4 linked regions of the Homo sapiens genome follow. The protein of the gene in region 4 purifies or fractionates together with the protein of the main gene of each other region. This does not show direct contact. Each region holds a gene or a part of one and is shown on either strand. Other genes may lie near its edges.

What was found.
Region 1: the proteins of SLX4 (region 4) and ZNF687 purify together in Homo sapiens (affinity purification with mass spectrometry, with the first as the bait; 2 studies listed by BioGRID). This does not show direct contact.
Region 2: the proteins of SLX4 (region 4) and KPNA1 purify together in Homo sapiens (co-immunoprecipitation; 3 studies listed by BioGRID and IntAct, with this or other methods). This does not show direct contact.
Region 3: the proteins of SLX4 (region 4) and CTR9 purify together in Homo sapiens (affinity purification with mass spectrometry, with the first as the bait; 2 studies listed by BioGRID). This does not show direct contact.

What each region holds. Positions count from the first base shown.
Region 1 is NC_000001.11:151,288,799-151,292,298, forward strand, and holds the end of ZNF687 (zinc finger protein 687), read left to right. Parts: intron 1-296; coding exon 297-473; intron 474-579; coding exon 580-742; intron 743-879; coding exon 880-1,209; intron 1,210-1,323; coding exon 1,324-1,436; intron 1,437-1,633; coding exon 1,634-1,775; intron 1,776-1,916; coding exon 1,917-2,411; 3' UTR 2,412-3,378; downstream 3,379-3,500. UniProt on the Homo sapiens protein: May be involved in transcriptional regulation.
Region 2 is NC_000003.12:122,448,940-122,452,439, reverse strand, and holds part of KPNA1 (importin subunit alpha-5), read left to right. Parts: intron 1-375; coding exon 376-464; intron 465-806; coding exon 807-906; intron 907-2,702; coding exon 2,703-2,866; intron 2,867-3,500. UniProt on the Homo sapiens protein: Functions in nuclear protein import as an adapter protein for nuclear receptor KPNB1. Binds specifically and directly to substrates containing either a simple or bipartite NLS motif.
Region 3 is NC_000011.10:10,757,746-10,761,245, reverse strand, and holds part of CTR9 (RNA polymerase-associated protein CTR9 homolog), read right to left. Parts: intron 1,074-3,500; coding exon 925-1,073; intron 1-924. UniProt on the Homo sapiens protein: Component of the PAF1 complex (PAF1C) which has multiple functions during transcription by RNA polymerase II and is implicated in regulation of development and maintenance of embryonic stem cell pluripotency.
Region 4 is NC_000016.10:3,580,681-3,584,143, forward strand, and holds the end of SLX4 (structure-specific endonuclease subunit SLX4), read right to left. Parts: intron 2,831-3,463; coding exon 2,417-2,830; intron 2,014-2,416; coding exon 1,662-2,013; 3' UTR 501-1,661; downstream 1-500. UniProt on the Homo sapiens protein: Regulatory subunit that interacts with and increases the activity of different structure-specific endonucleases.

The DNA of each region.
Region 1 (3,500 bases), on a different chromosome or scaffold from region 4:
TATATCCCTCAGCCCTGTTGTTTTGCCAGACTCAACCCTGAGATAGTACGTCCTGCCTTCCCGTCGTCCCCCATGGAGATGGGGGGAAGCAGGGCCACCTCTGGAGCTCCAGCTCTCCCTTGGCAGCCTCCCTTGGGGCACAGCCTCTGCACCTCTCTCCTTTCTCCACCCTGCTCATGCTCCACTACTGATTTCCTTCTTGTAGTCTACCCAGTCCCAGAGAATAAATGTATGGTCCCGGGGTGGGCATGGAGATGCCTCCCACCTCACCACAGGGCCTCCTGCTTCCTCCCTAGGTGCCCCAGCTGTTCAGTGGTGTTTGGGGGTGTGAACTCCATCAAGTCCCACATCCAGACGTCGCACTGCGAGGTTTTCCACAAGTGCCCCATCTGCCCCATGGCCTTCAAGTCTGGGCCAAGTGCCCATGCCCACCTCTACTCCCAGCATCCCAGCTTCCAAACTCAGCAGGCCAAGTGAGGCCCGGGGGAGGGCCGGGCTGGGCCAGGGAGGGCTGGTGGGGCGCAGGAGGGGAGGGGCTGCACCCAACCCTGCCTGATGTCTGCACTGTCCTCACTTCAGGCTGATCTACAAGTGCGCCATGTGCGACACAGTCTTCACTCACAAACCCCTCCTCTCCTCACACTTCGACCAGCACTTGCTGCCCCAGCGTGTCAGTGTCTTTAAGTGCCCGTCTTGTCCTCTGCTCTTTGCCCAAAAAAGGACCATGCTGGAACATCTCAAGGTACAGGAGCAGAGGGATGGGGAATGGGTGCTTAGCTGTACTGACCTGGGGCTGGGGCCACATACTTCAGAAGTGGGGGGCTTTGGCATAGCCAGGCCCTCCCCCACAACAGCAACCTCCCTTGTCTCCTCTCACAGAACACCCATCAGTCTGGGCGCTTGGAGGAGACTGCTGGGAAAGGGGCCGGGGGTGCCCTGCTGACCCCCAAGACTGAGCCTGAGGAGCTGGCTGTTTCTCAGGGAGGGGCAGCCCCTGCTACTGAGGAGTCGTCTTCATCTTCAGAAGAGGAGGAAGTACCCAGCTCCCCTGAGCCCCCCCGTCCAGCCAAACGGCCTCGGCGGGAACTAGGGAGCAAAGGCCTCAAGGGTGGGGGTGGGGGGCCTGGAGGCTGGACCTGTGGCCTGTGTCACTCCTGGTTCCCTGAGCGTGATGAATACGTGGCCCACATGAAGAAGGAGCATGGCAAGGTGAGTGGGCCCCAAGGGGAGTACCATGGGCTGGGGGCAGCATTGGGACTGCCAGTGTGACAGTGGGGACGGGGTCCTGGAGCCTGGCTCTGACATCTACCCCTGCTCTCCTAGTCAGTGAAAAAGTTCCCCTGTCGCCTGTGTGAGCGCTCCTTCTGCTCCGCCCCCAGCCTGAGGCGCCATGTCAGAGTTAATCACGAGGGCATCAAGCGAGTTTACCCCTGCAGGTAAGTCTTGCTCCCCGCTTCCTCTTCCTGCCCAGCACGTGACTCTCCCTGTATGCCAAAGTACCTGTGCACCTGCGACGTGTCTAAGTGGCCTGATGGTTGGGGTCTCCCTCTGCTCTGGCAGCCCCCTCCTCAGAAGCAAGGGCCCTGGCCTTCGGGCTGTGCCGCTGCTGCCATCCTGTCCTCTCCCATTTCAGGTATTGCACAGAGGGAAAACGCACCTTCAGCAGCCGCCTGATCCTAGAGAAACATGTCCAGGTCCGGCACGGCTTGCAGCTTGGGGCCCAGTCCCCTGGCCGGGGGACCACCTTGGCTCGGGGTTCCAGTGCCAGAGCCCAGGTAGGCAGAGGCCCGGCCTGCTGTGCTAGGGCTTTGAGTGGGAAACTGGAAGGCAGAGACCATGGCCTCAGGAAGCGAGCATGGGGGTGCCAGGGACAGTAGGGGTGGTGGTAAGGCCCAGTTTCTTCCACTTTTCTTCAGGGGCCAGGTCGGAAACGCCGCCAGTCTTCTGACTCTTGCAGTGAGGAGCCTGACAGCACGACACCGCCAGCCAAGTCCCCCAGGGGCGGACCTGGATCTGGAGGCCATGGCCCTCTGCGCTACCGGAGCAGCAGCTCCACAGAACAGAGCCTCATGATGGGGTTGAGGGTGGAGGATGGTGCCCAGCAGTGCCTCGACTGTGGCTTGTGCTTTGCCTCCCCTGGCTCCCTGAGCCGACACCGTTTCATCAGCCACAAGAAGAGACGGGGTGTGGGTAAAGCCAGTGCCCTGGGGCTGGGGGATGGGGAGGAAGAGGCCCCTCCATCAAGGTCTGACCCCGATGGTGGAGACTCACCCCTGCCTGCTTCTGGAGGCCCACTGACCTGTAAGGTCTGTGGCAAGAGCTGCGACAGCCCTCTAAACCTCAAGACCCACTTCCGCACGCATGGCATGGCGTTCATCAGGGCTCGGCAGGGGGCTGTTGGGGACAACTAGTCTCCAAGGCCTGGGACTGACCAGCCCCTTCCTCTTGGAGCCTGGTTTTCCCTACTGCTGCCTGATCCCTCGGCTGGGGAGTTTTCATTAACATTAATATTTTGTTAATTCCTGTCTCTCCAACCTGAAGAAGAAGAGCATTTGAGGATTATTCTAGTTATTTGCAACCTCCCTTTGGGTTTGGCCCTGGAGTCCTAGTAGAGTGGACCCTCCATTCCTCCTTTCTGAGCCCAACACTAATTAATTTTATGCTCCTGCTGCAGAACCCCCAGTGTGGGCCTGGGGGTGGGAGGATGGGACTTAGGTATGCCTGCTAGACAGGTTCAGGGAAGGACTGATGGGGGTGTCATGGATGGACACACCTCTCCACAATTCCTTCAGGCATGGACTGGAACTTTCCTCCTCTAGGCCGGGCCCTGCCCTAGTGCCCACCCCCGCCCCCGCCCCCGCCCAACCCCAACTCACTGGCACTCAAGCCCCCTACCCCTGCAGTGCCTTTCACTTCTTTTTTTCCCCAGAAATCCGGGGCGGGGGGGTGGGGGGTTGGTAGGGATGAGTCCTGTCAAGGGGGCCACAGGAGAGGAGGGGACAGGCTCTCAGGAATCCTTTATTCTTGTAGTAATAATAATACTAACAAACAGTTGGGGAACTAGGGAGAAAACCAGACCATTAAAACTGTTTGTGGTCGAATCTCCATTCAGGCCTCTCTTTTTCTGTGACTTGGACAATGTGGAGTTGAAGCGGGTGAGAGAACATGGAAGGCCCGCCCTTCTCAGGGAAGAGGTGGTAGTGACCAAGACAGGCAGGGAAAAAGCAAACTTCTATGTAGTGCCTTTTGTATCTTGGACACTGAGGCATCCGTTCATACCTCATCACCCATCTCCCCCTGCACTCCCCCAGAAAACCTGGAAATGACACAAGTGGCTAACTAAGGACTTTATTTCAAACAAAAATTAAAAATAAAAAATTGAGAGCTCTTTTCCCTGGGTTTGGGGAAGGAGTCAGGGTAGGGAATTCCACATGGCTAGGCCAGTACCCTCAGTACACTGGAGGGCTGTGGGAATTCCCTTCCTTGCCCATGATGGGGAA
Region 2 (3,500 bases), on a different chromosome or scaffold from region 4:
CCTGTCAGGTTCAAGCAGTTCTCATGCCTCAGCCTCTCAAGCAGCTGGGATTACAGGCGCCTGCCACCACACCCGGCTAATTTTGTATTTTTAGTAGAGATGGAGTTTCACTGTGTTGCACTCCATACTGGGTGACAGAGCGAGATTCTGTATCAAAAAACAAAAACAAACAAAAATGAATTAGTTCTTTCCTTTAATAAACCGAATACCTTCTGTTTGTTGTACACTTTAGGATATTATTTATCTTCCTCCCCCAATCCTACAACTGTTTCATTTGACTCCCTGATGAACGTGTTATTGTGATATACTGGCATCTGAAAGAATTATGAGGGAATTAAACTATGTAACCTTTATTAATGAATGATTCTTTCACAGGCAGTCTGGGCTCTTGGCAACATTGCTGGAGATAGTACCATGTGCAGGGACTATGTCTTAGACTGCAATATCCTTCCCCCTCTTTTGCAGTAAGTTTCTTCTTCCTTCTTCCTTTTTTTTTCTTTTTGAGAATAAAAATGTAAGAGATTCCTCAGAAAGCATTACATGTTTGGAAATCATTTTGGATTTTCTAGTGTTATTTTTAATTCCAGATATTTTCTTGTTTAGATCATTTCCTCAAGCACCCTATCTTTTTCCATGCCAAAATTCTGAATTCTGAATTACTTGCATCAGAATTAATGAAGTTTTAATGTTCTGGAGAAAAGCTATCTGAAGACATCTCTTTATCAAAAGTATTATTATTTAGTATTTATGTCATCAGATAATCACTGTCTGTTACATAGTTTACCATTGTACCATCGTGCTTTTAGGTTATTTTCAAAGCAAAACCGCCTGACCATGACCCGGAATGCAGTATGGGCTTTGTCTAATCTCTGTAGAGGGAAAAGTCCACCTCCAGAATTTGCAAAGGTAAGGACTATGCTTTTGGGACATTGGCAGAAAAAATACAATTAAAAGAGTATTGCAACCAATGGTAAGGTGAACAGGAAGATAATTTTTGTTAAAATTTAAAATGTTAGAATTTTATCTGTTTTTGGAGAAACAGGGTTGTTGTTGTTTTTGTTGGTTCTCTTTATTATTTAAAAAGCAAATTTAGAGCATAGCTTGAAGGTGCACATTTACGATGGGACTGCAAATAAAGCATAGCATGAAGGAAGAATTTGTAAAGCTTATTGAAATTAGGCTTCATACAATTAGTATACTGTTTAGGAGACTATCCTTTCAGTTCTCTTAAAACAGTGGTTCTCAAAGTGTGGTCTGTGAGTTCTCTGGGAGTCCATGAGATTCTTTTTTTTTTTCCAATAGGTTTTTGGGGAACAGGTGGTGTTTAGGTACATGAGTTACTTGTTTAGTGGTGATTTCTGAGATTTTGGTGCACCCAACACCCAAGCAGTGTACGCTGTACCCAGTGTGTAGTCCTTTATCTCTCACCCACCTCCGACCCTTTCTCCCTGAGTCCCCAAAGTACATTGTATCATTCTTACGCTTTTGCGTCCTCATAGCTTAGCTCCCACTTATGAATGAGAACATCTGATGTTTGGTTTTCCAGTCCTGAGTGACTTTATCTACTTGTTGATTGATGGGCATTTGGGCTGGTTCCATGTGTTTGCAATTGTGAATTGTGCTGCTATAAACCTGCGTATACAAGTATCTTTTTCTTATAATGACCTCTTTTCCTCTGGGTAGATACCCAGGAATGGGACTGGTGCATCAAATGGTAGATATACTTTTAGTTCTTTAAGGAATCTCCACACTGTTTTCCATAGTGGTTATACTGGTTTACATTCCCAGCAACAGTGTAAAAGTGTTCCCTTTTCACCACATTCATGCCAACATCTATTTTTTGTTTTTTGGTTTTTTGAGACGGAGTTTTGCTCTTGTTGCCCAGGCTGAAGTGCAGTGGCGCGGTCTCGGCACACTGCAACCTCTGCCTCCTAGGTTCAAGTGATTCTCCTGCCTCAGCCTCCCGAGTAGCTGGGATTACAGGCGCATACCACCACACCCGGCTAATTTTTGTATTTTTAGTAGAGACGGGGTTTCACCATGTTGGCCAGGTTGGTCTTGAACTCCAGACCTCAGGTGATCCACCCACCTCAGCCTCCCAAAGTGCTGGGATTACAGGCGTGAGCCACCACGCCCAGCTGCATTTTTTAATATGTTTGTTGGCTATTTGTATATCTTCTTTTGAGAATTGTCTGTTCATGTCCTTAGCCCACTTTTTGATGGGATTTTTTTTTCTTGCTGATTTGAATTTCTTGCAGATTCTGGATATTAAAATAAATGGGTATTTTTGTAGTTGTTTTTAATTTGGAATCATTTTTCACTGAACAAAACCTTAGCATTTTTGGTCTTTAACAAAGTATCTAAAATACAGAATTTCCTAGTTTTCACATTTGTGAAAGTTCCTTTACCTGTTTAGTCCACAAAGAATGTGTTTTGATAGGGAGTCTTACTCCAAGAATTGATGTATATAAAACTTTGCTCTCTGAAATTATTTTCCTTGGGCTTTGACTACAGATTAGTGCAAGATCACTGACAACATTGCCAAAGATGGAAATGCCACTTAGGTACTTGCTGCTTCATCTTTAGAAGTGTAAATCACCCTAGAAGTCACCAAGTACATGCCTGGTTGCCTTCTTGAGTATCTCACCTCACTTCTGGCTTTTAGTCTATTGAATTTCATAATCATCATTTTCCTTTTACAGGTTTCTCCATGTCTGAATGTGCTTTCCTGGTTGCTGTTTGTCAGTGACACTGATGTACTGGCTGATGCCTGCTGGGCCCTCTCATATCTATCAGATGGACCCAATGATAAAATTCAAGCGGTCATCGATGCGGGAGTATGTAGGAGACTTGTGGAACTGCTGATGTAAGATATCTTTTAGAAAGTGTGTCCACTTTCTCTCCCTTGGTACTAGTTTTCTAGCTGCTAATACTTAAATATTAATGGATTGTACATGATAATTGATTTATTGTGCTTTGGGCTACTGTTTTTGTTACTTGTTTATTTTGATGTCAGATCTGTTTGTCTTGTTTTATTGAGGCTTATAGAGAACCTCTTAGTCCTCTGCTGTTAGCAGGCCTTTAGCAGAAACATTGGGAAAACTCTGATATGTGTAGTTCCAGGCTCATACTGGATGGCCTGAGATCAACCACCGGACATCAGAAGGCATACTGCCACTAAAATAGTCATTCCTTATCTGTCTGTCTCATTTAGAGCTTATTTTAGACAAGTATCAGAAATTCAATCTTATTTTGCTTTATCATCTCCGTGATGCTTTTGATAATGGAGTGGAAGATTTACTCGTGACATAAATAATTTGAGACTGTATTAATCAAATTTTTAGATACTACAGAAGAAAAAAATGAAAGTGATAACATAATGGAGAAATGGTACAGTTACAAGGTATGGGAGATTTAAAGTACAAAGTAGATGCAAAGAGACATTGTCGCAAACATGACATTTGGAATATATTAGATAGTTATAATGTATTAATACAAAA
Region 3 (3,500 bases), on a different chromosome or scaffold from region 4:
TTTCCTCTGGCCTAAGGTAGTGGTTCTCAACTGGGGATGAAGTCATGTTTGGTTATCACAATTGGAGGAACGCTATCGGCATTTAGTGGGTAGAGGCCCGGGATGCTGTTAAAACATTCTATAATGGAAGGGACAGTTCCCCACAACAAAGAATTATCCAGCCCAAAACATCAATAGTACTGAGGCTGAGAAACCCAGGTATCCCTGTTTTGGACAATTATACATAAGGGGAAGCATGATGGAGAGCTTCCTTCTCAATATAAGACAGGGCTTCTCTAAGAGAAAGCCTTTTTATCCTTTCTCTTTCCTCCCTCTTTATAAGACCGATGTAATAATGAGAAGCTGGAGATGCTGCAGCCATCTTGTGACTATAAGGTGACAGACATGATGAAGAAAGGCTGCACATTAAGGAAGGGAGGACGGAATTATATAAAATCATAGGTTTGACGACAAGGACCTATCAAATTTGAGACCTTTGACAACTGGTTTAGTAAACACTAAAAGCCCTTATGTTTAAGGCACTGGGATGTGTTTTTTGTTACGTGCAATGAAAGCATTCCAAACTGATATACAAGTCTACGACCCCTTATCTGAGATTCTGAAATCTAAATGCCTTAAAAAACAAGTTTTGTTTTCTGTTTTTTTTTTTTTGGTAATCTTGGAGCAAACTTATTTGGTGGCAATACTACCTGAATTGTAACCCTATCCTACTAGTGTAAACAGTCTATCATTTTGCCACAGAAATATAAGTTTGCTTTTGGGGTAGTGCCCCAATAACTAGGTGTTATACATTACAAAGTACAGGTACCCTTCTGTAATCTGTAATCTTAATTTCTAAGACACATCTGGCTCCAAGAGTTTTAGATAAGAGGCTGTGGGCCTGACAAAGCAGTTAGGAGCTAGATACTTTTTTCATTTACATACCTCTTTATTGTTGAGTTCTAGAACAGCCAGTCCAACCAATGCTCCCACGCATTTGGAATTGAGTTCCAGGGCTCTGCTGAATGCCAGACGAGCTTTTTCCAGTTTGTTAAGTTTCACAAAGCAATGACCCATTCCTAAACGAACTTCCGCTATAAAATGAAGTCATTCAATCTATCAAACTAGGGCATTTTTTAGAGTTCAATTACAAAAATGCTTAAACATTCTCTATTTATGAGTTGCAAAATCCCCAAAATTAACCTCAGTATAACTACACTACAGAATCTTTTGACCTATCACAAACTTGGTTTCCTTGGAGGCTACATCATACCATATTCCAACCCTCTCCTCTATCACTGACACATTTCTCACTATAGAACAGAACACCTATAATACTGGTATTCTTCTTGTCTTCTAACATCGCTGCTAACCATACCTTCAATTTCTCATTATTGAAGAACAATTTTTAAACAGAGAACAAAAGTTCCACTAAGACCTTAAATAATATGACTGATTATGGGCACATACCATTGTTCCTTTCAAAGCTATGCTCATATGTGCTACCTCATTTAAGGCCATGCCAAAACACAAACAAGTTCCCATCTAAAGCCAATCACCATACTGGTCACTAGATGCCCTCTTATCTATTTAAGAATACTGCTCCAGCAACCCTCCCCTATTTTTTCTCTCTACTGGATCATTCATTCTCATCTACACATAAACGTTCTGCCATCTTATACAAATCCTCTCTTGATTCTATATCCCTTTCCAGTTGTCGATCATGTCTGTTCTTCAATAGCAAAACTCCCAGAATGATCTAGCTACGCTTGCTATGTCTAATTCCCTTCCTTCCATTTTCTCTTGAATACACTCCAGTGAAGCTCTCACCCCACCATTCCAGTAAAACTGCTTTTATCAAGGTCACTATGGATTTGTATGGTGCTAAATCCAATGATCAATTCTGTGTCCCTATTTTACTTGACCTAACAACAGAATTTGACACTGTTGGTCATCATCTTCTTCTGGAAACATTTTACATTTGCCTTTAAAGACAATGCACTTACCCTATTTTCCTCCTATACCTCTGGCTATTATCTTCTCAGTCTCCTTTGCTGATTCTTCCTCATTTCCCTAATCTCTTAATATCAGAGTGCTCTAGGGCTCCACCTCTAGACCTCTTTTCTATTTGCACTCATTCACAGCTTTATACACTATCTATATGTTGATGACTTCAGCCCAGACCTCTTTCCTGAATTCCAGCCTTTCTGCTGTCTTCACTTTGTCAATTTTAAATAACGGGATTTGGAAAATATGATTAAGTATAGAGTGTATTGGAGTGCAAGGTGTAAGAATGGCCACCAGAAAAGTACTGACTCCAAATGAATGATATCAGCATTTTCCAAAGTGAAAAAGTTAAGGTTTTAATTATTTGGGGGAAATAGAGAAGTTCTAGTAGGATTGTAACATTCTAAAATATAACACCAGGTGCCTATGTCACAGCAATTTGATTGGTTACAAATTGCTATATTCTAAAAAGATTATTTTATTGCTCCATGTGAGGGGGATCTTATTTCTGGCACCATTTGATCTTAATTGTTTACAGAAAAAAAAAGGCAGAAATTGCAACTGCATGCCACGTGACTCAGGTTGTATAGCCACATTCTTCTCAAGGCTCAGGATAAAGCTCTAAAAGCTTTAAGGCTGAACTGCTTAATTTGACAACTTATATGTCTAAAAGGTATTTCAAACTTTTCAGGTCTAAAACTAGTTCCACTTAAACTATTTCCCAAATATAGTAAAATATAACTCTACTTTTCCAATTGCTTGTGCAAGGGAGTTATCTTTGACTCTTCCTCTCTGTCTTATACATCATAGGTACTCCATCAGCTCTCCTTTCAAAATACATGTAGAATCTGACCACTTGTACCAACTCCACTATTACCTCCCTAGTGTGAGCCACAATCACCTCTGACCTGCCTGTCTGCAGATGCCTTCTCCCTGCTCTCCCTACTTCTGTCCTTGACCCCCTCCCCTTGAGCCCCACTCTAGTCTCAACCCCAAAGCTCAAACGAACCTTTTAAATATAGGTCAGATCACGTCACTCTGCTGCCCAAGGCCCTCCAATGGCTTCCCATCTCTGTCGATGTAAAAACTAAAGTCCTTACAATAATCTGTGATGCCCTACGTGATTAGTCAGTCCCTGGTTATAGCTTTGACCCCATTTCTTACTACTTTCCCCCCAACTCTTTCTCTCTCTATTCCAGAAACAATGGCCTCCTTACTCTTCCTTAAACTTACCAGGCACTCTCTTTCCTCTGGACCTTTGTACCTTCTATGCTCTCTCTCTAGGAGTGGTCTTCTCCTATATATCTGCATGGCTGCTAGTTGTTTTTTAGGTCTTCACACAAATGTCACTATCTCTGATGAGTTTCCTTGGTCATCCTTTCTAAGCAATTCCTGATGCTTCTCATACCCTTTTTCTGCTTTATTCTTCTCCTTGGCTCTTACTGGTAGCTTACACATCATACATACTTTACTATTTATCTTGCCCACTGAAAACTGGACTCCATGAGGGCAGG
Region 4 (3,463 bases):
CCTAAATGCTGCTGAGCCCTAAGATGCAGCTCACAAACCCCTCTTCTGGGAGGCTGTCCCTGACACGGCCCTTCAAGCCACTGGAGCCCGACTCCCCACCAGGCTGGGATAGGCCAGCGTCTGTCTCCTCCACTGGACCGGACGCAATGGTAAAGGCATGTGCTGTCTTGGTGAGTTGTGGGGTGGGGCCTGAATCTGCTTTTGTAGCAACTCCCGGCTGAGGCAGCAGCTGGGGGTGCTTGGGCCCCACTTTGAGGTGCGGGGGCTGGAGCTTGGCACCCAGCCAGGGCTCTGTTGGATACGGGTGTGTGGATTAATGGATGAACATCTGCATCTCTGGTCTGGGAACTGAAATGAGGAGACAGCAGGCCCAGGTTACTCCAAAGTAAAGGGCAGGTGCAAGGTGGGGACTTCTGCAGGCGTGGGGCACGGGCTGAGGGGCCACGGTGCCTCCAGGTCCCCCGTTTCGCTCGTGGTCTCCCTGGAGTGTGGCAGCCAGATTTTAATAAAGCCTTTTTGGTTTATTGCACATCATATAAAACTGACTGCACTGTATTTGAAACAGACGAGGACATTCACAAGGATGGAGAAACCAAGGTTTCCTTCTTTCCTGGCCCTCATCTTCCTCCACACTGCTCCTGAGGCTGGAGGCAGCTTTAACCCAAAGAATGGAATCCGCTAGTGAACATGTTTGTTTTGTGGTGGCATCAGAGTTGTTCTGGGCCCTTGTGCACTGTCCAGTTTGGAGACTGCTGGTAACAATGACAAGTGTCCGGGTAGCACGGCTGGGTCAGGAGAACTGCATCTGGGCTGTGGCAGTGCAGGGAGCCTCAGGACACCTGGTCTCAGGCTGGCGGTGGCTGGGGTTGGCCTGAGTGCTGAGGAGGACGGGCCCGGGCTGCCGGGGCAGGCTGGACCTGACGTCCATCTCAGGACAGACATGTAGGGCAGCTGTGCCCAGGACTGGTGGGCTCAGAGGGTGGCAAATGTGGCAGAATAGGCCATGCCCTGGCCAGCTGGTGATGGCCCACTGCCCCCTGGGACAGCTGAGGGCCCTCTTGGGTTAAGGGAGACACACTGGGCCGGGCGCAGTGGCTGGCGCCTGTGATCCCAGCACTTTGGGAGGCCGCAGCAGGCGGATTGCCTGAGCTCTGGAGTTTGTGACCAGCCTGAGCAACATGGTGAAACCCCGTTTCTACTAAAATATAAAAAATCAGCTGGGCGTGGCAGCGTGTGCCTGTAGTCCCAGCTATCTGGGAGGCTGAGGCAGGAGAATTGCTTGAACCCGGGAGGCGGAGGTTGCAGTGAGCCGAGATTGTGCCACTGCACTCCAGCCTAGGTGACACAGCACGACTGTCTCAAAAAGAAAAAAAAAAAGAAAACCAAAAAGGGAGACACACTGTGAGCACGGACAGAGGAAGGGGCTGGAGTCTGTAAATCCAGTGGGTGACATGCTCCAAATGCCACCCTAGAAAGCAGAGCCCAGAGGAGGAAGCCCTGGATTGGGCTGTGGTCATCATCACAGCGCAGAGCTGATGTGGTCCCCAGGCCCAGAAATGCCTGTGGAGGCCTGACCCACGCTGGGTGTCCCAGGTCCTCCCTGCAAATGGCGGGGGTGGGGGCTGCTGATGGCAGGTTGGGGTGGGGTCGGGATGGCCCCATCAGTTCCGCTCCACCTTCTTCTTGCCCCGAGGCTGCCGCCTCCTGCCCTGGAGCTTCTCCCTGCGGGTGGCGGCAGTGGTGAAGGTGATACAGTGGGTGTCCAGGAAGTCCAACAGCCTGCGCGAGGACACACGGAGGCCGTTCTGCCTCAGCTCTGCCTGCAGCTCCCGCAGCTCAAAGGGCTGGTACAGCAGCACCTTCTGGTACAGGGCCGGCTTGGAGCGGATGTAGCACCTCAGCGCCTCGTCTGTGTCCGCCGCCTGCACGGCTGCCTGCGAGGCACTGACCTCCCCCTCGCCCTCCTCTTCACCTGCAGACTCAAATGCCGCTCCAAACTCACAGGAGGAAGAACTGAAAAGAGCCAGACCAGGACGTTGTGCAACCCCTTTCTCTCCAGCCCCTGAGACCATGAGCCTCTTTAAAGGAAGGAAGGTGTCTACGGGTCCCATGGAGCCTGGCCTGTGGCACGATCCCCAGCAAGGCAGGACGGGCCTGAGAGATCCCTGCAGGCTACGCCAGCGGGATCCTGCCCCAGCCAGAAATGTCTAGCATGTGGGGCAGGAACCAGGAGGCCTGCGCAGGGCTGGGGTCAGGGAACCAGCCCCCTAAACCCACCTGGTTTTCCCACAGGTCAAACCCAGAAGGTGACGGGGGTTTTTGAAGATTGGCCATTAGGTCTCACTCGTGCCAACCCTCACGCCCACGGGCCAGAGGATACATGAGGCCACTGACCCCATCGCATCCATCCGGTTACCTCTGTGAGCTCAAGGAGCTGTCACTGCCATCCACAGAGGTGGCCACGGATTCTTGAGAGGCTGGGATCTGGGCGTCATCATTGAGGCCTGGAGGTGCCTCCTTGGTGGGCGACCTGCTTGGGGGTGTGATGCTTTCATGATGCTTCCTTTGATGTCGGGGGCCCTTGGTCTTAGCAGGTCCCTTGGGCCTATGGGCCCCAGGTCCTGTGGTGGCCTCCTGCTGGGCATGGACCCCTGCCCTTGAAGGCTTGTAGGTCTGGGAGGCGAGGGTCTGGCAGTGAGGCGCCTGCAACAGCGGCTGTGAGGACTGGCTCTCGTCCTCGGAGTCTGAGTCCAGGGTCTGGTGAGTGTACTGGAATATCTCCTTCAGCTTCAGAACCATCTGGCGTTTAGGCAGAGGGCGGACTCCAAACCTGACGGAGGAACAGGTGGATCTCAGGACCCACCCACACAGCTGGTCCACACTCCACGTTCCCTATCTTAGCAAAGAGTGATACCCAATGCATTCAGCGAATGGCTTGTGTGACAAACCATAGATGCCTGACTTCTGTGAGCATCAGAGGTTAGTGTCTATTCTAGGCGCCAACTAAGCTTACTCTGAATATTCCAAAAGAAACATTGCCAGCCAGGCACAATGGCTCACGCCTACAATCCCAGCACTTTGGGAGGCTGAGGCAGGAGGACAGTTTGAGCTCAGGAGTTCAAGGCCAGCCTGGGCAACATAGCAAGACCCCGCCTCTACAAAAAATACAAAAATTAGCCAGGCGTGGTGGTGTCACCTGTAGTCCCAGCTACTAGGGAGGATGAGGTAGGATCGCTTAAGCCCGGGAGGCTGAGGCTACAGTGAGCCAAGATCACATCACTCTACTCCAGCCTGGGCAACAGAGTGAGATCCTGTCTCCAAAAATAAAAAATAAACAAAAGATATGCTGCTCCCAGTTCTGAGGGATGGTGGCAGCAGCAGCTTCCCCGGGTGCCCGAGTGGAAGAGCAGTGTCATGTGGATGTGAGAGTTAAATGTTCTTTTAAAAAAAATCAGGCCTCCGC